7 linked regions of the Homo sapiens genome follow. The protein of the gene in region 1 purifies or fractionates together with the protein of each later gene. This does not show direct contact. Each region holds a gene or a part of one and is shown in the gene's direction. Other genes may lie near its edges. The genes, in order: BTNL3, ITGA5, ABCA2, SCARB1, SLC25A51, FNDC3A and ATF6.

Region 1 (3,500 bases):
TTTTTAGTTGAAATCTAAATGGTTTAACTATTGTAAGATACTCTAGACCCTATGTAAAGCTTCTGTTTTGCAGGCAGTCACCATGTTTAGATTTATGACTCAGGTCCTAGTCTATTTTTGGTGGTTGTGGCTCCAAATACAATTTAATTTTCAGAGACTTTACTGTGTTATTTTGGTCTACTTTGCTTAACTGATGTCACTGGAGATTCTGCTCATCCTTTCTAGTACTAACTGTGGCAGTAAAAGGTGTTTTCCCATGTTGCTCCTCACTGTTTCTTGTGAGAGAGGTGATCATCTGGCATAGTGGGAAAAAGTACTCTTCCCCTGGTCTCCAGTCAATGGGGCTTATGATCAATTCTTTTGCCAGCACCACTTTGTATATCATGTATTTTCAGCCATTTAGGGGTGGAAAGATTCCCGCTGGGCCACCTACTTCTGCTGGAGGTGGGAGTGGGGGAGTGGTCATAGGATGCTCAGCTGCTGTGTTTTTTTTCTACTCCTGGGGTCCCTAGTCAGTCCTCCTTAGTCTTTCCACTTTTCAAAATGCACCTATGCTTGCCGCATTTCTAGGGTTTATGATTTTACTTAGAGAAAGGAGCAAGGAAGAGAAGTCTACATCATCTTACTTGAGCCCCCTTCCTTGGTGCTTACACCACCATCATTCTTTCATTAATTTATTGACTAACAAACATTTATTAGGCTCCATGCACTGATCCAGACCCTAGGGAATGACAGAGTACAACACTCAGAGAGGAAGTTCTGTTTGGAGTGGTTAAAAGGCAATATTAAATCATAAAATTGAAGTCAACCACATAAGAGGTACTTTTGCATATTTCCCAAGTCACAAATCTGAATGTCACAATAAACCCTTCCTTGATGTTCAGTCCTATTGATTCAACCTCTCAAATAGATTCTGCACCTGCCGTTCCCCTTCTCAGAGCCCTCCTCCTCCCCAGCCCTTCTTTTCTCTCACTGGAGTCACTTCAGTAGTTGCATGGCGGGTCACTCTCCTCCGGAGTGTTCTCTATGGTCCCTCCTCCATGCTGCTGCCTGGAGACCTCTCTAACATACAGGCCTTGCCATAACTCCCACCTGCTGGAAGCTGGTAAGAGCCTTACTGGTCTACAGTTCTTAAAGTGGCTGTGGGCAAGTCCACGTTGCTCAGGTCAGTGAAGGTATGACCTCCACGGCTTGCCTTGTGCCTTTTTCAGATCTTGTCTCACACCCCTACTCTCTTATACATCATCTGGAATATAAATATTCATGAGTCCTTGAAATCACTGTGGCATGTTAACTTTTCACATTGTGGTTTGTACTTGCCTCTTTTTGTCTAAAATGCTTCCCCTCTCCCAGACCTGACCACAACAAAACTCCTATTTTCTGACACAGAAGGGTGCAAATGTCATCTCCAGGAAGCTGTGCCTTTCCCTGACAGTTAAGCACTCTTCTCTGTGCTAACCTGACCATGCTTTCATAGTTGCCATTTCACTATGAAATGTATTTTATACAGTTTCCTCACTATTTGATCAATGAGTTTCTCATTAGAAGGGGCTGTGTCTTATTCACTGCATCCTATTTCATACTTAGGAATATCCAGGCATATATAGTGGCTGCTAAATAAATGTTGAATGAACATAGACCATGGAAGGGCTTGCAGTAGTAGCATGAGTGGATGTGTGTGTAAGAGAGAGAGAGAGAAAAAGATGTGTGTGTAAGAGACAGAGAGAAAAGGATGTGTGTGTGTGAGAGAGAGAGAGAGAGAAAAGGATGTATGTGTGTTATGGGTACAGGCTTGATGAACCAGACTCAAAATGCTGTAAGCTTGAAATTTGGTCTTTGCTTTCATCTTTCCCTGTTTTCTTCCCAGCACTGGGCTCACTTCCTCTCATTTCCATCGTGGGATATGTTGACGGAGGTATCCAGTTACTCTGCCTGTCCTCAGGCTGGTTCCCCCAGCCCACAGCCAAGTGGAAAGGTCCACAAGGACAGGATTTGTCTTCAGACTCCAGAGCAAATGCAGATGGGTACAGCCTGTATGATGTGGAGATCTCCATTATAGTCCAGGAAAATGCTGGGAGCATATTGTGTTCCATCCACCTTGCTGAGCAGAGTCATGAGGTGGAATCCAAGGTATTGATAGGAGGTGAGTGGGGAGAAGGAGGAGCAAGGAATGGGTGTGTGCATACGTAACCCAGGGTAGAGCAGCAGCTTGTGTCTGGGATTGTTGTGTAGTACCATCCAGCTTCAATGATTTGTTTTGAGAGTCAAAGATTGATGAGGTATAAAAAACAAAACCAAACATTTGATAAGGCAGAAGTAGAATAGTTTACAATTTCAAGGCAGTAGAATTAAGTATTTCCTTCACCACACAATACCCCCATGGTGCAACACTCACAACTCAACACGTAACAAAACTTAAGGAAATTAACTCTAGGACTAAGAAAATAATTGTTTCTTCATTTTTAGAAAACGTCGTTGCTCCTTCATGAAGCAGAATAAAACTGTAGAAAATTTCAGAAAGGATTTACAAATAGTAGGAAAATTTACATAAACTAAAATGCTTCCAGAATCACACTCAATTAAAAGGATTGAATTTGCCAGTTAAAAGACAAAGAATCTCAGACTGGATTTAAAAATCTCATCGCTTGAACCCAGGAGGCAGAGGTTGCAGTGAGCCGAGATGGCACCACTGTGCTCCAGCCTGGGTGGCAGAGCAAGACTCCATCTCAAAAATGTAAAAATAAAAATAAAAATAAAAATAGACAAATACTAAAAATCTCAATGGCAATTCATAAGAGGAAAAATGTAGCACATATGAGCTATTCATTGAAAATAAAAAATACTCGAGAAATATTAATCACGAAGAATTGAACAGATATATTAGTGTCAAGAAAAGGAAGACAAAGTTGTAAGAAAAAGGGCATTAGGGATAGAGTTATTTCAAAAACATAAGTTCACTCAGTATAAGAATATGAAAATTTTAAATATATATACATGTACCTTATACATGTAAAACATAGAAAATATCAACAGAAATAAGAAAAAAGGTCATACTTCGAGTTCTAAAATTGATTAAATAAGTAGACAAAATGAGTAAGAATATATACTATTTGAACTAAAAATTAATAAGTCTGAAATAACGTATTTTTGGAGATGGCACTCCAGGTTTGTAGAATATACATTAATTTTTACCACACTTGGAACTTTTATAAAATTTTACCAGATATAAACACATACAATGGTTTTAAGAAAATTTTCAGACATAGATATCATGCACATGAAATTCTCTAATCATAATTTAATAAAGTCAAATGACCACAGCAAAAGATAGTTTAAATTCTTATGTGTTTGAAAAATTTTTAAACATTAAAATAACTGAGAAATTGAAGAAAGCATAGTGATAGGTAGAAAATTCTTAAAACTGAATGATAATAAAATTACAATCTATCATAATGTGTAAAATAGAACTAATATAGTTTTCTGAGTCAAAATTTTATCTG
Region 2 (3,500 bases), on another chromosome or scaffold:
GAAACCCCATCTCTACTAAAAATAAAAAAATTAGCCGAGCGTGCTGGCACGCACCTGTAATCCCAGCTACTCGGGAAACTGAGGCAGGAGAATCCCTTGAACCTGGGAGGCAGAGATTGCAGTGAGCTGAGATCACATCTGTACTGAGCGACCCCAGACTGGGCGACAGAGTGAGACTCCATCTCAAAAAAACAACAACAAACAAACAAAAAATAAAAACAACTGAGGCTTCAGGAGTCATAGAAATTTTGAACCAGAAGTTAGTTTAGGAAACATTCAAGGGAAATCCATCATTTTATGCCAGAGAATCCAAAGCTTGAAGAGAGGCAGTGACTTGGCCCAGGACACTTGAAAGCTTGAGAGGCAGGCCAGTCTCAGCTCAGCTCCTTGTTCCCTTCTGCAACTGCCACAAGTGGAGACAGCTGTTCTTCCCCAGCCAATCATACATATCCCTTGTGAATGCACTAGGGGACCCCAAACCAGGTGTCCTCCTCTGGCCTGGCCCATGCTGCTGTAGGACCTGTAGGAGCTGGGCGCTGGTCCACTTGCTGCTCTCCACCCCTGACCTTGTCAGGCCAACAGAGTCAAACAGTAACCCAGTATTGAACTGGGACTTGGTTAATCAAAAGCTGGGGAGATAGCAGATATGAGAGGAGGGAATAAGTTGGCAATGGGGTAGACTAGAATGCTGTCGTAGAAATCAGGATTCCTGATTTCTGCTTCATATTCTGGGAGGGATTATGAGTGACCTAAGCCCATTACTTAACTCCTCTGAGATAGTTTTCCCATCTGCAGAATGAGAACATGGGACGAGGTGAGCAGCTTTGAACTTTTTCTTAGGGAGTGTCAGAACGAGGCCAGTCTGCCTTTATGCCATGTGGCCTCAGGCACCTACAGTGAAGTCTTAAAACCAGTGGATGCTCTCTACAGTGCCTTCTAGCTGTGGTAGTCTGTGTCTCCAAGGACCAACCCTTCCATTTCTGAGGCTTCAGAATAAATTCTGGCAGTTATTTCTTCTCTCAGACTCTATTTCAGAAAAGTGTACCTGCCAACCTGCATTTAGTAAGAAATAATGAATTCCTTTTCTCATTCTTTTTATTTTTATTTTTTATTTTTTTGAGACGGAGTTTCGCTCTTGTTGCCCAGTCTGGGATGCAATGGCGCAATCTCGGCTCACCGCAACCCCCACCTCCCTGGTTCAAGCGATTCTCCTGCCTCAGCCTCCTGAGTAGCTGGAATTACAGGCATGTGCCACCACGCCCAGCTAATTTTGTATTTTTAGTAGAGACGGGGTTTCGCCATGTTGGTCAAGCTGGTCTCAAACTCCCGACCTCAGGTGATCTGCCTGTCTCAGCCTCCCAAAGTGCTGGGATTACAAGCGTGAGCCACCACGCCTGGCCGTTGTTGTTGTTGTTGTTGTTGAGAAGGAGTCTCGCTCTGTCTCTGGACTGGAGTGTAGTGGCGTGATCTCGGCTCCCTGCAAGCTCCGCCTCCCAGGTTCATGCCATTCTCCTGCCTCAGCCTCCCTAGTAGGTGGGACTACAAGCGCCCGCCACCACGCCCGGATAATTTTTTTGTATTTTTAGTAGAGACGGAGTTTCACCATGTTAGCCAGGATGGTCTCGATCTCCTGACCTCGTGATCTGCCCGTCTCGGCCTCCCAAAGTGCTGGGATTACAGGCGTGAGCCACCGCACCTGGCGCTTTTCTCATTTTTTATTAACCAAAAACATCTATAGCTGCCAATCAGAGTTTCTGACCAGCATGAGATAACCAGGTTCCCACATAAGTTGATATAATTCCAGCCAAAAGCAAATACACTTGAGGTTTTAATTAGCCTAGGCCACCTTATCTGGTAAATGCATGATTTCCGTTAGGCTTTCTGAAATATTGAAAATAGCACACGGACCCTCCATTGTTACCTTCTTAGACCCCTAAAAGTGCCCAACTGCTGCAGGATTTAGGAAGCAGGAAAAAGATGTGGGAAAATAAGGACAAACTAGCTTGCATGCCATCCATGGCACCAGTCACCTCACTTGGCGTGTTGGCAGGGGAGGCACTATTTATTGGATTGACTTTAGGTTGCTGGGATGGAAGGGCCACTGCCTGTCCAGGAATAAGCCATGGGTAGTGTGCCGGGAGGAAAGGAGGCCTAGGTCTGTGTCCCTTGCCTGCATGCCAGGTATCCTGAACCATCGCACAGCCGGAATGGATATGCCCCTGGCTTGTGGGCTTTACAAGCTTTGTAAACTCTCTGTCTTGCAACCCTGCTAAACTCCAGGCTACTTCCTCAGGCCACCCCAGGAGTGTCAGGCTCAGCTCCTCTCCAAGAGCAGTGGGTGTTGGAGAAATTGGCAGCAGGAATAGGGTCCCTTGGCCTTAGCCCTGTGCTCCAGGAAACTTTGAGAGAACCTCTTCTTCACCCAGAGGAAGAGGGAGAGGGTATTGCCCAAGTCCACAGTTAGTGCCTGAACCAGAACTCTTGGCTCCTGGTCCAGTGCTCCTTTCACTGCTTCCTGTACCTCTGCTGTTCTGGTCTAGTTCAGGTTGGTGGCCCTTTCTGCTTTCTAGAGCCTGAAGGCAGCAACCAAGTTCTCTGGGGGCTGCCCCTGCTGAGAGAGGGGTCTCCTTCTCTCACATCACCCAGCCCTAGGGCGGTGCAGCCAGACCCCACAAGTGGATGTCATGCCTAAGTGAGAAGGGTGGGGCCTGGCACGGAGGTGGGGGTGTGGGAGACAAACGGAGAAGTGAGAGGTTGGAAACAGACAGGAAGCCACAGGCAGTAAACATTTCCTGTCCCCAGAGTAACGGAGACTGGCACCTCCCCTCCCCACCCCTCCTAACTTCAGGAGCTCTCCCTCTTCAGCCTACCCATCTCCTATTCCTCTGGACCCTGCCTTCTCTCCCCTCCATTCTCACCACTGGCCCTCACAGACCCCTCCTCACTCTCCTCTTCCGTCCCCTCGGACCTGTCCTCTCTGCTGCTTCCATCCCCTATACCTCCTGGGCCACTCCTCCCCGCCTCAGTATACCTGGTCTTCTTGGAAAATACCCCCAGCTCTTGTGACCTCTACCATAATCCTTCACTTTGGGCCTTCTTGCCTAGTGAGAAAGCTGAGGAAGGTATTCAAATATCAGGGAAAGGGTAGGTATTGGACGGGTTGAAAGCTGAAAGTGAACAGAAACCAATAGAGATGGAGAAATGTAAAATCTGAGATAGAGAGATAGGATTCAAAAACCAAAACCAAGAGAGCAAGCAGTCATAGGGGCAGAGGGACAGAGGGATTGAGAAGCAGTGCCAGAGGCAGACACAGAGCAGAGCAGAGGCCAAGGCTGGCAGGAGCACTGGTCCAGAGGCTGGGTCGAGTTGCCCAGGCTGCCAGATACAAGTCCTGGCAGGAGACCCTTAGGGGAAACCAAGAGAGCCAAGAGCGGTGTGGAGGTCTTGGAGGCAAGAGACCTAGGGATGAATGAGGCAGAGCTGACGGCAGGAGGACTGCC
Region 3 (4,212 bases), on another chromosome or scaffold:
AGGGAACGGACGTCAGAGGCCTGGCCAGGCTGAAATCGCCCATCTCCCAGGCCCGCAGGCTGGAGGGTGTCTGGGGTGACAGGGTCTGACCTGTGCCTTGTAGCTCCCTCTGGTGGCCAGTGCTGGGGAGGCACTGGGGATGCGGCTGCAGCCAGGGAGCCCCTGTAGTGGACGGTGGAGAGTGGGGCGAGGAGGAGAGAGGCCAACCCACGGGTGGTGCTGACCAGGGCCCCAACAGGCTAAGCCCCCGGGGCTGGGGCACAGGGCTTGTCCCTACCCCAGGTAGGGGTGGGCAGGTTGAGGGCAGGAAGCCCCCCTCACCCATGGCTGTGGCTTGTGGGAAAGACCTGCTGGTAGCTTCCTGCCCTGACCCAGCCCTGTGGACTGAGCAGAGAAAAGCAAGTGCCTTGAGGCTGCGGGCTGGGGTGGGAAGCTGATCCCTCACTCACTAGCCCAGGGTCACCTTCCTGCTGCAAAGGAGCTGGGAGGAGTGGGGAGCTGTGGCCTCGGAGGTCTTCATTCACTTGAGGATGCGCCTTCTATGTGCGCCCTGACACTGGACACCACACAGCGCTACTCCACCCCATTCACAGGGGGGAAACTGAGTCTGGGAAGCGCCGTCAGAGCCACCCATGGGGTCAGCCTGTCCTCTGTCGCTCTCTACAGGCCACGCGGAGGAACTGCCCCACCTCCCGGGGCGCCCCAGCAGGTGCCAAGCCACAGCCGCAGAACCGCCTGATCCCGAACTCCCTGTGCAGAGACCAGACTCGCCCGAATATGGGGAGAAAAACGAGCCGCGTGCAGCAGGGGCCGCCTCGGTCCCCTGCCTGCTCCGCTCACGGCGAGCGTTCCTGGGGCCTCGAGTTTCCCCCCTTCCGCTGGCTGCTCGGAATCGCGGGACGGACCCACCTGGCCGCCCTGCCTCCCTTCCAGGTGGGCACCACCTGGACTCCAAGTGCTGGTTTACAAAGCACACAGGAGACCCTTACGGGGGTGAGCTGGCCCCTCGCCAGCGTCCGCTCGGCGCGCCCCGGGGACAGTGAAGGCTTGGGGCGCCTCTGCAGAGTCGCCAGCGCGGTGGGCGCAGCCGGATGCCTCTGGGAGAAGAGCGCAGCGCCCGAGGGTCCCCCGGCCTACGAAGGCTAAGCCGGGGTCTCGGATTCGATGTGGGCGCGTCGCGTGACGCCCGGCGAGGGGCGGCCCGGAGGCTTCCCGGCGGCGGCGCGCGCAGGGTCTCGGGCCCGGGTCGGTCCCGGGCGCGGCGCGGGCGGCGGGCGCCTCCTGGCGGGCGCGGACGGAGCGCGGCGCCTTTAAGCGGGGGCGGGCGGGGCGCGGGCAGAGTCGCTGTCGCCGCGGCCGCCGGGGCGGAGCCAGCGCGGATCGGGTCCCGGACGCCCGAGCGCCCCGCCCCCGCGCGGGCGATGCCCAGCGGCGCGGCGGGCTGCGGGGCCCGGCGGGGCGCGCAGAGGAGCGGGCCGCGGCGCTGAGGCGGCGGAGCGTGGCCCCGCCATGGGCTTCCTGCACCAGCTGCAGCTGCTGCTCTGGAAGAACGTGACGCTCAAACGCCGGAGCCCGGTGAGCCCACCCCACGCGCCCGCCCTCAGCCCGAGGCCGCGCGCACCGCGGCCAGAGGCGCGCTCCCCGCGCGCACGTGCGGACGGCCGGGCGCGCGCAGACCCCGGCGGGCGCTGGGGGCGGCGCGGGCCCGAGCCCCCTCCCCGCCGGGCCCTGCCCTCGCCTGCCGGCGCTGCGGCCTCCGGGGAGGTGGCTCGGTCGTGTCCAGTCCGGTCCCGCGTCCGCTGACATCGCGGTGCTCGGCTGAGTCACGGCACCCGCGCCCTCTGCAGCGCGCTCGCTGGGGCCGCTGTGGGCGGGGGGCAAGCGGCGCTCAGGACTCTGGCTCGAGGGAGGCCCTGGTTCCCAGGACAGAAGGCAGGCCTGGGGGGCTCCATTCAGCTGCGAGGCTCCATGGTCCTTGGGCCCAGCCTCCCTGGGGTCCCGGAGGAGACCCTGTCCCTTCCCTCCGTCCACCCCTCCCCTGCCCTTGGGCCGCGGCCTGCCATAGAGGTTGGTCCCAGGCATCTCTCCGCCTCCCCTCCTGGCACATCCGTGACCCTTGCTCATGCTCTCGCCACTGGGAATGTCCTTGTGCCAGCCTTGGCCAGCCTGAATCTCTGCACCCATTTGTCCTTTGGGGTCAGTTCTCCCCGAGCCTGATCCACTCTGTTGCCTCCTGGTCCCCCCACCTGCTCTGGGGGCTGGGTCTACTGTTTGGAGCTGTGAACCCCGGCTTTCCCAGCACTGCCTGGGCAGCCAGTGGACCTGAGGGTGCAGGACACATGGCTGTCAGGGACAGAAGTCCTTCGTGGAGCGAGGGGCTTGGGGATATGGGTGTCCTGCCATACCCCCAGCTGGCCAGCTTGGCTCCAGCCTGGGAAGGGAAGGGACACCTCCCAGGCCACAGGCCTGGACCAGCTTAGGTTTCTGAAGGCCCTTGGGATTGTCCAGGCCAGGGCTCAGAGCAGGTGGGGGCCTAAGGCAGACATCCTCTTGCCCAGCCAGGGCCCGGGCGGGACCCCTTGGGCTGCACCAGTCCGTGCCTGTTTATCTTTCAACATGCACTGCAGGAAACCCAGGCTGCAGTCAGCTGGGGTGGCCATCATCACCATGGCTGGCAGAATTCCCCTGGGCACCTGGCCTTGGCGGGGAGCCTGGGTTAGGTACATGCCCTGGCCAGGCACCTGGAGCTGGCTGAGTGGGGTCCCATGGATCAGGCCTGCAGCCCCTGGCATTGAGTCACTGGGGACAGCAGAGCAGGGCCAAGGGAACAGGGATGTGGCATGTGGCATGCATTAGTATTAGTCCCCGGGGGTGGTTGTCAGGAAGGTCCCCACTGGGCTTGGGAGCAGAGGCTGGAATGGTGGCCCCTGTTCCAGTGGGGACAATGCTCAGGGAAGGGAGTGTGGCCTATGAGGGCAGCTGGCAAGCAGGTGGGAGGTGTGCACTGTCCTGACCGCAAGAGTGACTCCCAGCTGCTGGTTTGGGCTGCCCCCCAGGACCTTTTTGGGTCCCCACCCTACAGGGCTCCCAGAGGCCCACTGGGCCACAGTGGAGGTCCTTAGCCCATGGCTGGAGCAGGTGGGGAACTGTTTCCCCCAGGGAGGCTGAGTCCTTGCCAGGCTTGTGATGTGGGGCTGGGGCTGGCTGGACACTGGGCACACTCCTGCTGGGTCCCCACTTTCCTGGGAAGGATCTTGGACATCAGAGCTGGACTCTTGGGGCCAAGCTTGGATGACAGAGGTTTGCCCTGTGTGCCATGCGCCCTGCTGGGGCAGGGGTGCACCCTGGGCAGAGCTCCACCCTGGGCAGAGCTCAGGGTCTGGAGGGTGGGTGCCAAGGACCTCTGTGCTGCTAGCAGGCTCCTCCAAGCTCTTTGCCTCAGTTTCCCTGTCTGTGAGTGTGGCCTATCTCCTCTTAGTTAGCTGGACTTGGGTCTACCCTTGGGCTACAGGCTGCTCTTGGTGCAGGGACAGGGTCACTGTCATGAAGTCACTGGGATGGCAGATGGCAGCGCCACCCTCGGGTCTCACCTGTTCTCCCCCCGACACAGTAGGCGGGAGCTACAGGGAGGGGTCATGCCCAGAGAAGGCATCTAGGCCTCCAGGCGATGTGAAGGCACTGGGCTGGTCTCGAGGGACGGAGGTTGGGCCACCTGGAGGCACCTGTGTGGGGCACCCAGGGCGTGCTAGACCTGTGCTGCCGCCTGTAACCAGATGCTGCTGTGGCGCCCGCCGCCTGCCAGCCAGGACTCTCCTCCTCCTCCCAGTAGCTCGTGCGAGGCCGTTGCTATAGCAATGGGGGAGGCAGCCGGGCCTGTTGCTGCAGTTACAGTGCCCATAGCAGGCCGGGTGTGGGCGGGGCTGGCGCCCCGTGCTGTGACCCCTGCCTCTGACATTGCCTCACTCCTGCAGCCACCCTCGCCCTGGTGCCTGTTGGTGCCCACAGTGCCTTGGCGAACCCTGGGCTCCGTCCTGGCTCAGGGAGCGGGTGGAGGCTGGCACGGGCTGGGGCGGGCATGGGACACCCACAGCATGATGTTCCTGGCCACAAAGCCCTATTGTCCAAGCACAGTAAACACAGCAGCCGCCCCCACCCCAGGGACCGGGGACTCGGCCCGGGCCACACAGCACACTGGGGGCTCTGAAGGGTTTT
Region 4 (3,500 bases), on another chromosome or scaffold:
ACGTGGTGAAACCCCACTTCTACTAAAACAAAAACAAAAACTAAAACAAAAATTAACCAGGTATGGTGGTGGGTGCCTGTAGTCCCAGCTACTCGGGAGGCTGAGGGAGGAGAACTGCTTGAACCCGGAATATGGAGGTTTCGGTGAGCCGAGATCGCGCCACTGCAGTCCAACCTGGGCCACAGAGCAAGACTCCCTCTCAAAAAAATAAAATAAAATAAAAATACAAAAATTAGCCAGGCGTGATGGTGGGGGCCTGTAGTCCCAGCTACTCAGGAGGCTAAGGCAGGAGAATCGCTTGAACACAGAAGCAGAGGTTGCAGTTAGCCAAGATCATGCCACTGCACTCCAGCCTGGGCAACAGAGTGAGACTCCATCTCAAAAAATAAATAAATAAATAAAATTATTCTTTATAGAGACAGGGTCTTGCTATGTTGCCCAGGCTGGTCTCAAACTCTTGGGCTCTGGTGATCCTCCTACCTCGGCCTCCCAAAGTTCTGGGATTACAGGCATGAGCCATGGTGCCTGGCCTATATTTCACTTACGTGATGACTGTCTCAAATCCCAGTCTCTCCCCAATCCCTGCTGTGTTTTCTCTGTGCTCTGTCACGTGGCATGCGTTTTACCTGAGTTGTTTGGTGCCTGCCTTTCCTCCGCTATGGTAAAGCCCCACATAGCTGGGCTTTTGGTCTGTCCTGGTCATTCTCCCATCCCCAGCTCTTAGAACCCGCCTGGCAGGTGGTAGTGCTCAGTGCTTGCTTGTGGAATGAATGAATGATCCCCCTGGCCACACGGAGCCCATGTTCCTGCATGAGGCTATCCCTGCCCTGAGCCCATCCGCTACCCTGAGCTCCGGCGCTCCCTTTAGGTGGTGCATGGGCCCCTGTTTACCACAGTCCCTTGACTGGTGTCACCTGTTGCTGTTAGGACATATTTTAAGATGCATTATGACAGCATGGATAGGTTGCCTGTTTAATTCCATAAGCTCCAGGTGCGACAGCCTCATGTGCGAAGGGCTTTCCCACCACCTCCTATCCCAAGCTCCCGCCGAGGAGCCCCTTCCCTGGCCGGGCTCGGGCAGCTGTTCCGGAGCCTTGTGGTGGGGCGTGGGGCCCTCATCACTCTCCTCACAAGCGTACTTGTCCCTTCCCCTGCAGAACGTGCGCATCGACCCCAGTAGCCTGTCCTTCAACATGTGGAAGGAGATCCCTATCCCCTTCTATCTCTCCGTCTACTTCTTTGACGTCATGAACCCCAGCGAGATCCTGAAGGGCGAGAAGCCGCAGGTGCGGGAGCGCGGGCCCTACGTGTACAGGTGAGGCTGTGTCCAGGTGAGGGTGGAGGGGCCGGCTGAGGCTGGGCAGGGGAGGGGTCTCAGAGTGGACGGGATGGGGAGGCTGCTGACTGAGCCCCAGAGATTGTTCCGGAAGCAGGCAAGTCATAGTCGGGGTAAGTGCTAGTCCCAGAGAAGTTTTTGTTTTAGGGTTTTTTTTTTTTTTTTTTTTTTTTTTAGAGATGGGATCTTGCTATGTTGCCCAGGCTGGTTTTGAAGTCCTGGGCTCAAGCGATCCTCCGCCTCAGCCTCTCAAAGTGCTGGGATTACAGGTGCGAATCACCAGACGTTGCCTAGAGAGGTTCTTTATGGAGCAGGGAGGGACCAATGGTGTGCGTCTGGGTGGAGGGTGCATGTGTGAGTTACACACATACATACACACACATACACATACACATACACACATACATACATACACACGTACATACACATACACACACACATACATACACACACATGTACCTACACATGCATACACACATACACACACACACACACACACACACACACATGCATGACCAGGAGCAGGGACCGACCCCCCAGACCCTATCTGGGCCAGAGGACCGGGTGGGTCAGCACGGGAAGGGGTCAGCTGTTTGTGGAACATGCTGGCCCAAGGACCACAGAGTTGTGCCTTTGCTTTCTGCTTGTCCTGTACCTGGCTGTGGCCTAGGGGAAGTGACTTCATTCCTCTGAGCCTCAGTTTGCCCGTCTGCAGACTGGAGAGACACAAGAGCCCCTTCATGGGGTCACCGGGACACTCAGGATGCACTCGGAGCTCTGAGACGGCTGGCGGATGTGCCTGTTACAACTCCCTTACCTCCTGGCGTTTTCACAGCACCTCCCCTCCTCCACACCCCCACTTCCCAGTTCACAGACAGGGGAGCTGACTTGCCCCCGGCACACGGTGTTCCAGGGATGGGGCGGGCAGAGGGTGTTCCCGCTGTTGGAGACCCACAGTCTGGTTCTGGGAAAGCCAAGATGAAAACCCAGCAAATGTGCCTGAGGTTTGGGAATGGGAAACATGAATCAGCTGCTGCATTCCGTTCACTCATTCACTCATTCGCTCGTTCATTTAACAAATGTTTACTGAGCACCTGCTAGGTGTTGGCTGCCGTTCTAAGTACAGGGGACCCAGCAGTGGACAGAATGGGCAAAAATGCCAAAGCTCTCTATACTCCTTCATTCTGTGAGCACTGACTGAGCACCTCCTGTGTGCTGGGGGCGCAGGCAGACCAAGGCCCTGCCTCACCAAGCTGATGTTCTGATGGGGAGAGAGTAAAGAAGTGGACAAATAAGGGGAAATCAGGCAGCCATCAGTATTGTGCAGACAAAACAGTGTGAAGCCGGAGTGCAGGAGGGAGGGTGGCCTTGGGGCTCGGTCTGACTGGAGGGTCGGGAGCACATCTGCAAAGGGACACTCACTGGACCCGCATGGTGGGAAGAGGCCCTGGGGAGACAGAGTCCCGGGCAGAGCATGTGCAAAGGTCTGAAGGCTGGGACAGAGGCCTGTGCGGCTGGGGTTACGAGGGAGGGAGACAGTGGAGAGACGAGGCCTGAGCCTTGCTGAGGGCCTCAGAGGTCACGTTAGGAGCCTGATTTTAACCTGCATGCAAAGTGGGGTTGTGGTCCAGAGCATGGCACGATCTGATTTCTACTTTTTTTTTTGAGACGGAGTCTCTCTTTCACCCAGGTTGGAGTGCGGTGGCGCGATCTCGGCTCACTGCAACGTCCGCCCCCCAGGTTCAAGCGATTCTCCTGCCTCAGCCTCCCGAGTAGCTGGGATTACAGGCATCTGCCACCATGCCCAGCTAATTTTTGTATTTTTAGTAGAGACGTGGTTTCGCCATGTTGGGCAGGATGGTCTTGAACTCCTGACATCAGGTGATCTGCCCACCTCAGCCTCCCAAAGTGCTGGGTTTACAGGCATGAGCCACTGCTCCCGACCTGATTTCCACTTTTCAAAGATTCTTCTGGATGGTGGAGAGTGGCTTGGAGAGATGAGAGATCATAAGGACAGCAGCAGCAACAGTCACAGCAGCTGATGTTTACCTCGTGCTTTCTCTGCACCCGGCGGCTGTGTTGATTGCTTTCTGGGTATCTGATTGCTTAATCCCCACAGCTGCCCTGTGAAGTAGGGCTTGTGATTACTTCCTTTTGTAGATGG
Region 5 (3,500 bases), on another chromosome or scaffold:
ACTTCCTGGGCTCAAGAGGTCCTTCTCCCTCCACCTTCCCAGTAGCTGGTGTACGCCATCATGCCCCAAAAATTTATTTTGATTTTTGTAGAGGCAGAGTCTCACTATGTTGCCCAGGCTGGGCACAAATTTGTGGCCTCATGCAATCCTCCCACCTTGGTCTTCCAAAGTGCTGGGATGACAAGTGTGAGCCACTGCGCCTGACTACTATTTTTAATTTTTAAATTATTGTTATTATTTTTAGAAACAAGAGTCTTGCTCTGTTGCCCAGGCTGGAGTGCAGTGGTGCAATCATGGCTCACTGCAGCCTTGACCTCCCTGGCTCAATTGATCCTCCCACCTCAGCATCCCACATAGCTGGGGCTACAGGCATGTGCTACCATGCCCAGCTAATTTTTAACTTTTTCATAGGCATGGGATCTCTCTATGTTGCCCACACTGGTCTCAAACTCGTGATTCAAGCAATCCTCCTGCCCCAGCCTCCCAAAGTGCTGGGATTACAGGCATAAGCCACCATGCCTGGCCAGTATCTTACTGTTAAGGAATTAAAATCCAATTAAAAAATATTTAGCCTCATATACACACACACATACACATATGTGTGTATATATTTATATATATTTCTAATATATAGAAGTTTCTATATATTTCTATTATATCTAAGATACAATATACAGTTATCATGTTATCCCCCAAATAAAGGTGATTTCCAAGACCAGAACTGGAAGGTGGGAATTATTCTGTATGACCCAGCTATTTGGATCTGGATTTTTTCAGGGAGAAGGAATCAGATTTAGATGACTGGCAAGGAAAGATCATGCATTTTACAGAAGGAGGTGTATTATAGGGGTGGAACTTTGGCTTAGTTCCAATCATTTTCAGCAGTATCTAGTATAGCCACCTCTTATCCCAGGGCAGCCTCACAAAGTCATTGCCATCTGTGATATGGTAGCAGGGATATGAGCCCTGGAATCACTCAGACTTCATTTCAGAATGCTGACCCCACCAGTTACTAGCTGTGCCCTGAACAGAACAAAAGAGAATACTGGTTTTATTCATTTGTAAAACTGGAAAAATAATTGTGGAGTTGTTTTGAGAATTCATACATGAAAATAGAGTGCATGGTACATACCTGTAGGCCTTCCTTGCCCCCATCATCCCACACCTCCACCTTCCAAGGTGCATGTTCAGTGTCCCTTACCTGTGTTCCCACAATGGTTGGTTATCATAGAAGCTGTCACATTGGTGTAATTGTTCACCTTGGCACATTCTATTAGTTTGTGAATTCCTTATCTTTGAATCTCTAGCAACTTAGCAGAGGACCTAGTTCATAGTAGGTACCAAAGAAGTATAAATATGAATAGAATGAGTGCATGTCTTGCTGTTTTATTTCTCAGGGGAGGAATGTGGGCCTATTTCAGCAGGACAATAGATAGATACCGTATATAGTGTAGTCAGTAATTACGAACTAGTCTAGTGGCTCTGAAAGTTTTTGGTGTTAGGACTCCTTTACAGTCTTAAAAATGATTGTGGGCCCCAAACACCCTTTGTTTATGTGGACTGATATTCAGGGTCTTTAGGAATTTAAAATTAAAATATGAATTTTAAGGTAATGATAAACACATTACATGTTAACACATTTTCATGAAAAATAACATTCATGCCTCCCATTTTTTTCTAATGATTTTACAGTCATTAGAAAATATTTTACAGTTTTCTAAGCCTTTTGCATGTCTGACTTAAGATGGAGTTTCCTGTTTGCTGCATTCAGTCTGTTGTGATAAGTCATTTTGATTAAAGTATATGCAAAAAATCAAGCCTCACATAGATATGTAGTTTGAAAAAGGAAAATCTCCTGGACTCCCAAAAGGATCTCAGGGACTTCCAGGGGTCTTCTGAAAATGCTTTAAGAATCACTGATCTAGTCTGAAAAGGAAAGTGTGGTGTCCAGATATTAGAGGATGGATTAGGGAGAAAGCCCATGTGTTTAGCTCTCTATAAAACGGGTTTACCCGTTGTCATTTATTATTTGTAGGTTAAAAAAAGTCCTTCATGAAAAAGAAAGATCTTAAGCAGCATGATGGATTCAGAAGCTCATGAAAAGAGGCCACCAATACTAACATCTTCAAAACAAGATATATCACCTCATATTACAAATGTTGGTGAGATGAAGCATTACTTGTGTGGCTGCTGTGCAGCCTTCAACAATGTCGCAATCACATTTCCCATTCAGAAGGTCCTCTTTCGACAACAGCTGTATGGCATCAAAACCCGGGATGCAATACTTCAGTTGAGAAGGGATGGATTTCGAAATTTGTATCGTGGAATCCTTCCCCCATTGATGCAGAAGACAACTACGCTTGCACTTATGTTTGGTCTGTATGAGGATTTATCCTGCCTTCTCCACAAGCATGTCAGTGCTCCAGAGTTTGCAACCAGTGGCGTGGCGGCAGTGCTTGCAGGGACAACAGAAGCAATTTTCACTCCACTGGAAAGAGTTCAGACATTGCTTCAAGACCACAAGCATCATGACAAATTTACCAACACTTACCAGGCTTTCAAGGCACTGAAATGTCATGGAATTGGAGAGTATTATCGAGGCTTGGTGCCCATTCTTTTCCGGAATGGACTCAGCAATGTCTTGTTTTTCGGCCTTCGAGGTCCCATTAAGGAGCATCTGCCTACCGCAACGACTCACAGTGCTCATCTGGTCAATGATTTTATCTGTGGAGGTCTATTGGGTGCCATGTTGGGATTCTTGTTTTTTCCAATTAATGTTGTAAAAACTCGCATACAGTCTCAGATTGGTGGGGAATTTCAGTCTTTCCCCAAGGTTTTCCAAAAAATCTGGCTGGAACGGGACAGAAAACTGATAAATCTTTTCAGAGGTGCCCATCTGAATTACCATCGGTCCCTCATCTCTTGGGGCATAATCAATGCAACTTATGAGTTCTTGTTAAAGGTTATATGAAAAAACCATCAGTTAAGTGCCATTTATCAACTGAATAGACCTTCTAAGAAGAATGCAGTTTGGCCTCTTTTTTTTTTTTTTTTAAAGGAAATCCCAATCTTATTATGGAAAGCCATCAACTGGGTGTGGGGAGTAGGTCAGAGGGTTAGTGAAAGTCCAGGGGATTTCTCCTCCAAGTCCTACCACACAAAGGAAAGTCTCAAGCCTCTATTCACCCCTTCTCAATCCTCACAAAATAGGGGGTTGTTCAATATTGTCTTCAATGATAAAAACTTTGTGGTTAAAAGTTTCTCCTTAGGACTAGTGACAAAGTTAGGCTTATACTTTTTTTTTTTTTTTTGAGGCAGAGTCTTGCTCTGTTGCCCAGGCTGGAGTGCAGTGGCACGATCTTGGCTCACTGCAACCTCCGCCTCCAGGGTTCAAGCAATTCTCCTGCCTTAGCCTCCTAAGTAGCTGGGATTACAGGCGCCCGCCACCACGCCCAGCTAATTGTTTTGTATTTTTAGTAGAGACGGGGTTTCACCATGTT
Region 6 (3,500 bases), on another chromosome or scaffold:
TTTTATAATTTTCTTAATATTTTGGTCTTATTTCAGATAATTATTCAGTGGTCTCTTTTTATATCTTTATTCTTACCTTTCTGTCTTCCCACTGTTGTGGTTTTGCTTGTCTTTAATATATACTTTCAAGTTTTCTGTGTAACCTGTGGTCTTCCATCAAGTTCCTTTGTGGGTGTCATCTTTCAATGTTTCCAATCACTTATCACCCATTACCAGTCCTTGGGCTATTTTTTCCTCCAAGATTGAGAACTACACCTGGGAGATGTCATGTGCTTGCAGGGTGATGCAATGTTATTAAAGTGGGGATACAAACATAGTGTGATGTCTTCCTTCCTTCAAGTAGTTTACAAATTAGTTGGGGGTACTAGACTAATAGTATCATTAGCAAAAATTATAATATGGTATTATTAAGTTGTGTGACACCAACTGGAATTTAAAGGGAAGTGAAGCCAGTGAGAGCTAGAACAATCCTGGAAGGCATTTGGAGGGAGTCAGAGGAAACTTAGAAATGATTTAGATAACAAAAGGAAAGGCATTCCAAAAGAGATTCACAGGCAGAGTTGGAAGTAGTAGTAGAATAAGTAGTCCAAGAGCATCCAAGGACAGAAATTGGGACGAAGAAAGAAAGAAAGTTAGGTCGAGATGTTAGCTTAAGCACCAGGGCATCAGAAGAGGAAAATAGGCAGAGCTGGACAAGACAGTTTGTATCATTAGGAACCTATCACTGAAAGAACTATACCTCAGCTTTGACATATTAATAGCTTAAGCTTTATGTATAATGGATAGCTTATATGTGTTTGTTTGTATGGCTTAGGTCAGGGGTCGGCCAACTTTTTGTGTAGAGTGCTAGATAATTAAATATTTTAGGTTTTGCAGGCCATTTACAGTCTCGGTTGAATGTTCTTGTTTGTTTGTTAGTTTTTTATAATCTTTTAAAAACGTAAAAATTTTTACATTGTTGTCTCAAGAGCCAAACAAAAACAAGCCATCTGTGGACTGGATTTGGCCAGGGGACCTAGTTTGCTGACTGCTAGGTAATAATTGGCAAAGTAATTGTCCATATAGCACATACTGTGAAATTTCTTGCATCATCTTGTCTATATGGTGGTTTGGGCGTTTTATGACTATCATGTATATATTTTTCCTTATGTTATCCTAAAAAAAAAGTATGTAGAAATAAGTGCTTCTGTAATTGTTATTTTGTGGCCAGACTTCTAACAAGAGCCTAGAATAGGTCTCAGAATTAGGAAGTGAAAGACGAAAAGCCTTTGAGTCAGGCCTTACTACAGTGAAAATAGCTACACAGTGGCTTGATTTAGAATTTGTATAAGGTTAGGTGTATCAACTGCCTGTGCTGGTTTTACATTTTTAAAAACAGCTGGCAGGTTAAAAACCTTGTCTAGGATGCTGGTGGTCTGTAAGTGACAACAGAGGAGCAGGCAGTAGGGATCTTTGTTTTTAGAAGTAGTCTAGGATGAGTTAATAAAGGGACAAGCAGTTGGACATTCTGCAGTACTCCAGAAAGAATCACTCTGTTATGGAACAGTCTAATAATTGATATTTACATTGATGAGCTTGAGTCATCAAGAAAAGATTATATCATGTGCACATTAAGGCACGGAAGAAAGACCTAGAGATCTCTTTACAAATAATTAAGATTTTTTTAAGATAAGTTATGGTGATTTAAAGGATATAAGTATCAGCTGTTTTGAAAAGTAATTTACATGAAACATCTCTGAAGTTTCTAAATTTATAGATATCTATTTCTAAGGCAGTTCTGTTTCCTTCAGTATACTGTGGTTCATGTGCCATTACCAGGTGAATAGTGATGCCTCACGCTGTGGCTGCACAAATCAATTGGCTGGGGCAACTGTATTTTTTGTGGCATCAAGAGAGCAAGAATACATCATGAGAGCATTTTTTCATTAAGCAGGCATCAGTACATTCCATATATCAGGGTTAGTATTAGGTGCTGGAAAAAGTACAGATGTATAAGATGGGAAGCAACCTGGACAGAATCAGTGATGCTTCTTTCTTCCTGTTAAAAACATTAAAACCAACCAAACAAAATCATGAAACTTAACTTTTGTACTTTAATTTATTATTAGCATTTTTCATACTTAGTACATACAGTACCGTAATTTTAAGGCAATATAAAGCTTTTGATTTAAATAACAGCCTTCATAAATTGCTACTTAATACAATTTTTACTTTTTAAATTTTAGTTTAAGGAGAAATTCATGCCCTCCCTCTTTTTTTGTGAATGCTTGAAACAGCTTCACCATGCCAGCTGTTTCCATTTGCTAAACAAGAGGTAAATTAAAGTACCTTGGATGGTGACTCAAAAGTCTAGTTCTTAGTTCTAACTTCACCACTTATTACCTATATGATTTTGGGTTAGTTTCTTGCAATCTTGGTTTTCTAAGCATTAAAATAGAGAATAATATCTATCCTGTTTTCCTCAAAGATATTGTGAGAACCCACAGAGATGTTGGAAACTATAAAAGCATTAAAATACATACCATAAAAGTGCTTACATTAATGCTACTATATTGGAAGCAATGCAGCCTTTTTTTTTTTTTAAGACCAGAGTTCAAGCTTTATCCTCCAAAGTTCTGTAAACATAGTATGTTTCCAGTAAACATTCAGTTGAGCTCATTGAATTTTAGAACCTATACTTGCTTATTTTTAAAATCCTATACAAACCTGCCAGATATGTGGTGGTATTCTCATTTTACAGATGAACTATACTTCTGATTGACTTCCATATCTCTTTCTCCTTCACTTCTTGAGATCTCTTATGTGCTAGTTGCTAGAAATACAAAGTGCAATGTATACTTTGAAGTAAGCCTTGGTGTAAAAGTTACCTAAGTTTGGTAAATTAGATTGTGTATGTTAATCAGCCTCTATCAGAAATGCTGGGGGAAAAAAAAGTGTTGTATCTGTTTTCTTTCCTCAGAATCCATATTTTAATATATATTTGAACTTTTAAAAACTTAAATGATTTCGCTTCACTACTTCTTCAGTGAGGGATTACTTTAATTGGTTTATGTATATTCTAAACCGACAGACACATAATTTGGGAGGCAAAAAAATCTTACTTCTCTAGGGGTTCTAAACAGATATTTAAGTACACTTTAAATCACAGTTTAGACTTTTATTAGAAAGTAATTACGTGCTTTGCTTTATAGAAGTATATGCCATATACAGCAACTACTTTTGTTGAGCCATAACTTGAAGGATTAGTCATTTCATTTACTTTAAAATCAGTTTTTCTTAAGATTTGCTTAAATAAAAAGTGAAAATTCATAATTTGCGATTTTATGTTTAAATTTTCTAAATTTTTTTTGTTTTCTTAAGACAGACATTCTCAATTATGTCTTTGTTCTTATGACTTGATTTTTTTCCATGTAATATTTTCATTTGTAATATATACCTAAAAAAAATTTTTAGCATAGTACCTTCATAGTTTATGAAGTACCTTTTTGTTTCTTTAGTAA
Region 7 (3,126 bases), on another chromosome or scaffold:
AAGAAGTAGTCACTTTTTAAATTGCTGGCAAAGCTATAATTAATCCCTAGGCACAATTGTAGTTTTTATTTTAATGTTTGTATGCACAAGGCCCTTTAGGAAATGAGAAGTTGCCATGCCAGATTAATTTTTTTTTTTTTTTTTGGTGGGATTGCCTTTTGGGGGTTGCAGCCAGAAATTGTGGGTAATGTGTGTATTTTTTTATTTATTAAATTTTAAACAGGATTGTGCAAGCTTATGAGACAATTAGATAAACTCATGGAGGAGGCAGGTCCTCCTGTTATTAGATGATTTTGTGCTCTTGGGGCTGACAATAATACACTCTTGGGAAGTGATGGTAGAGACTGATGGGAATAGTCTTTCTGCCTGGTTGCAAGTCCCAAATTTTTAAGGGTTAATGGAAGTAAGTGGATGTTTCCTCATGTTAACTACTGAATCAGATGTTAGGAGCTTGTCCCTTTGGGGTTGACTTATGCCCAGCAGTACAGGGACACAGCTTCATTAGAGTGTTAGTGTAAACTAACTCCAAAGTTAGGAGTTAATGTGAAAGGATCATCCTTGAAACAAATCTGCTGTTTGCCATGCTTGTAGTACAGAAACTTCACATGGAGTTTTGGGTGGGATTTGTGTTTTCACAAGTAAAAAATCCCTCACGATTATAAAACTCAGAGCATCATCTAATTTTTTTTTTTAATGACTACAAGTTCCAGCACAAAACTGGCATTTCTTTGCCATTTCTTGCCAGTAAGAAGTTGACACGGAGGTATTTGAAAGCAATGTTATGTGAGTCATTCTTAAGTGTTCCAAGTAAGTTTAGAAACAGAAAAGGAACTTGGGATTCAAATTGATTTTTCAAATCATTTTTAAAGAGACATCATCCTGACTAAATCTTAGCCTGAACCTTCCTCCCCTGTGTGTATTCCCCGGTAGTCACCGCAGCGAGATGCTGGTGAGACTGCCGTGGTGGCATTTAGCATCGTTAAAACTGGAAAACTCTCAAGCTCTTTGCCACTTTCCTACTATTTTTTGATTCTTGCCATTTTACCAAGCTTAGGTTGTGAAACTTGACAGAAATGTATTACAGGAAAAACTTATAATTGTATTTGACTTTCTAACACATTGCAAAGTTTCAAAGTGACTTTCACTTTCAACAACATATTAGAAGTAACCACTTTTGCTTTCACAGCCTGAAGAGTTAGAGCCTGATCTGATGCCCCCTTTCACTCTGAAGTCATGGGAAATTTTCCAGCCATGAAAGCCCTCTTTCCACTGCATACTGATGGGCTGACTCAGCTTCCTTCAGCCGACTGAGATCTTTTCATACTATTGGCTATTTCATACCAATTAACCTCTTAAATAAGATTGTGAATTGCCAAAATTGATAGACACTTATTACCACCTGTGGACTCCATATTCCTTACCACAAATGTTATTTTCATCAGTCCTGAGTCATTTTAACTTACAGAAATTAGGATTGTTGCTGCTAATATGAATACCAATTATAACTTTTAGAAACAAGAATAAAGCCTAAAAGAGAATGAAATATAAGAAATGTTCGTTCCCACCCCTAATAACATTTGGAAGTGAATATTCCCATTTTCTTCCACCCACAGGGATTGGGATTGATTTTTAATTTCCTAGGAAACAATACTAGACTACCCAAAAAGATGTTGCCAGAATCCAAAAGGAACTATGCTCGTAAAAGAAATGCAGTTTTCTCCTACCTAAAAAAAAGAAAGTAAAGTGTGTTCTGTTCTTATCTTTTTAATGACTAAGCTTTAAACAGTTTATTTTGGGTAAGACTAGAACTTTCGGCCATTTGTTCTAATATGTGTGTTATTAGATGCAATAGAATTTATGAAAAGAAGAATGACAAAGGTATCTGATTAGAAAATTTGATCTTACGCATGAATCCATGTCATGGCCAGCCACTGTCACATAGTGGGTGCCATTCTCAACATATTGGTTTGCTAACTTTAAGCATTAGGGATTTAGCACACTAAAATACTTTTAATTATATTAGGTTTGGTAACTAAGGAGTAAATAAATCATAATTTATCATTTGCCAAGGCCAACAAACAACACTATTGTGCTGTTTGCTCTCAATGAAGTTGAATAAACCAGGAGGCTTGGCATATCCCCTTTATGTTAATCCCAGCTAGAGATTAGTAGGTTGACTTTCACAGCAATTGTATATTGATCCATTTTAACTCATCCTTGCCATAATTTCCAGGCCAGTCACCAGGACAGAGGAGATGATGGGGAAACAGAGCTTTAGATGAAAACTACTATGCACTACTAGCCTTAGAGGCACTGGTTTCCTGTTACCACTTTGGCAAGTATGGATGGTCTAAGTCCAGTAGGGCTTCATCCATGGAGCCATTAGAACTGAGGGGGGAGTGTTAGAGATGCCATTTCACCAGGATCTTTTTGCTCAGGTTGTACCCATGCCAATTGAAGAACGTGTTAAAGATGAGGAGGAGAGATGTACCATTCTCTCCCTTAATAATGATGTTGGTTTGCAAAACCTAAAGAAATAATAACAACAGACTATTTCATACTTTCAAGCAAGTCTTTATACTACCTGTTATTTCTCTAAAATTCAAATAAAGAATTTTTAAACTTACCTTGTTTATTCTGTATGTAGAAAGAGAGAAAAAAGCCCCCAAATGAATCTTCAGTGTTGGGGGGTTAGTAATGGGAAAGGAAGCCTGAAAAGGCTTTGTGGCTTGTGTTACTGTTCAGATGAAACTGTTGAACTATTTTCCACTCTTCTCCCAAGCCTAATTAAGTAAAAATTTCCTTTATTTAAGTGTCCAGATATTTAAACTACAATCTTATCAAGGAAAAAAAAATCTAAAAACCCATATTTTATCTATGTCTTCAGGAAAGTGGGTTACTCGGTCACGCATCTTGTCCTCACCAAAGGCCTCTTCCCAGCTTGCAATGGCAAATGCCACCACACCTGAAGCTAGTCACTGCAGACTGACAGCAAGGGATCCATCCAGGAGTAATTAATGCAGGCATTTACTGAGCACCCAATGATTACCTCTGACACTGGTTTATTAACTATATTATCTTATTTCAATCGTCTCTACATCCTATTTTGTAAGATGGTTATTAATA

Evidence for each region.
Region 2: the proteins of BTNL3 (region 1) and ITGA5 purify together in Homo sapiens (affinity purification with mass spectrometry; one large-scale study listed by BioGRID and IntAct). This does not show direct contact.
Region 3: the proteins of BTNL3 (region 1) and ABCA2 purify together in Homo sapiens (affinity purification with mass spectrometry; one large-scale study listed by BioGRID and IntAct). This does not show direct contact.
Region 4: the proteins of BTNL3 (region 1) and SCARB1 purify together in Homo sapiens (affinity purification with mass spectrometry; one large-scale study listed by BioGRID and IntAct). This does not show direct contact.
Region 5: the proteins of BTNL3 (region 1) and SLC25A51 purify together in Homo sapiens (affinity purification with mass spectrometry; one large-scale study listed by BioGRID and IntAct). This does not show direct contact.
Region 6: the proteins of BTNL3 (region 1) and FNDC3A purify together in Homo sapiens (affinity purification with mass spectrometry; one large-scale study listed by BioGRID and IntAct). This does not show direct contact.
Region 7: the proteins of BTNL3 (region 1) and ATF6 purify together in Homo sapiens (affinity purification with mass spectrometry; one large-scale study listed by BioGRID and IntAct). This does not show direct contact.

What each region holds. Positions count from the first base shown.
Region 1 is NC_000005.10:180,995,346-180,998,845, forward strand, and holds part of BTNL3 (butyrophilin-like protein 3 precursor), read left to right. Parts: intron 1-1,867; coding exon 1,868-2,143; intron 2,144-3,500.
Region 2 is NC_000012.12:54,412,767-54,416,266, reverse strand, and holds part of ITGA5 (integrin alpha-5 precursor), read left to right. Parts: intron 1-3,500.
Region 3 is NC_000009.12:137,025,438-137,029,649, reverse strand, and holds the start of ABCA2 (ATP-binding cassette sub-family A member 2), read left to right. Parts: upstream 1-1,412; 5' UTR 1,413-1,509; coding exon 1,510-1,575; intron 1,576-1,738; exon of another isoform or gene 1,739-2,186; intron 2,187-4,212. UniProt on the Homo sapiens protein: Probable lipid transporter that modulates cholesterol sequestration in the late endosome/lysosome by regulating the intracellular sphingolipid metabolism, in turn participates in cholesterol homeostasis.
Region 4 is NC_000012.12:124,815,365-124,818,864, reverse strand, and holds part of SCARB1 (scavenger receptor class B member 1), read left to right. Parts: intron 1-1,157; coding exon 1,158-1,315; intron 1,316-3,500. UniProt on the Homo sapiens protein: Receptor for different ligands such as phospholipids, cholesterol ester, lipoproteins, phosphatidylserine and apoptotic cells. Receptor for HDL, mediating selective uptake of cholesteryl ether and HDL-dependent cholesterol efflux.
Region 5 is NC_000009.12:37,887,128-37,890,627, reverse strand, and holds the end of SLC25A51 (mitochondrial nicotinamide adenine dinucleotide transporter SLC25A51), read left to right. Parts: intron 1-2,035; 5' UTR 2,036-2,077; coding exon 2,078-2,971; 3' UTR 2,972-3,024; downstream 3,025-3,500. UniProt on the Homo sapiens protein: Mitochondrial membrane carrier protein that mediates the import of NAD(+) into mitochondria. Mitochondrial NAD(+) is required for glycolysis and mitochondrial respiration.
Region 6 is NC_000013.11:48,978,912-48,982,411, forward strand, and holds part of FNDC3A (fibronectin type-III domain-containing protein 3A), read left to right. Parts: intron 1-3,500. UniProt on the Homo sapiens protein: Mediates spermatid-Sertoli adhesion during spermatogenesis.
Region 7 is NC_000001.11:161,961,445-161,964,570, forward strand, and holds the end of ATF6 (cyclic AMP-dependent transcription factor ATF-6 alpha), read left to right. Parts: 3' UTR 1-2,626; downstream 2,627-3,126.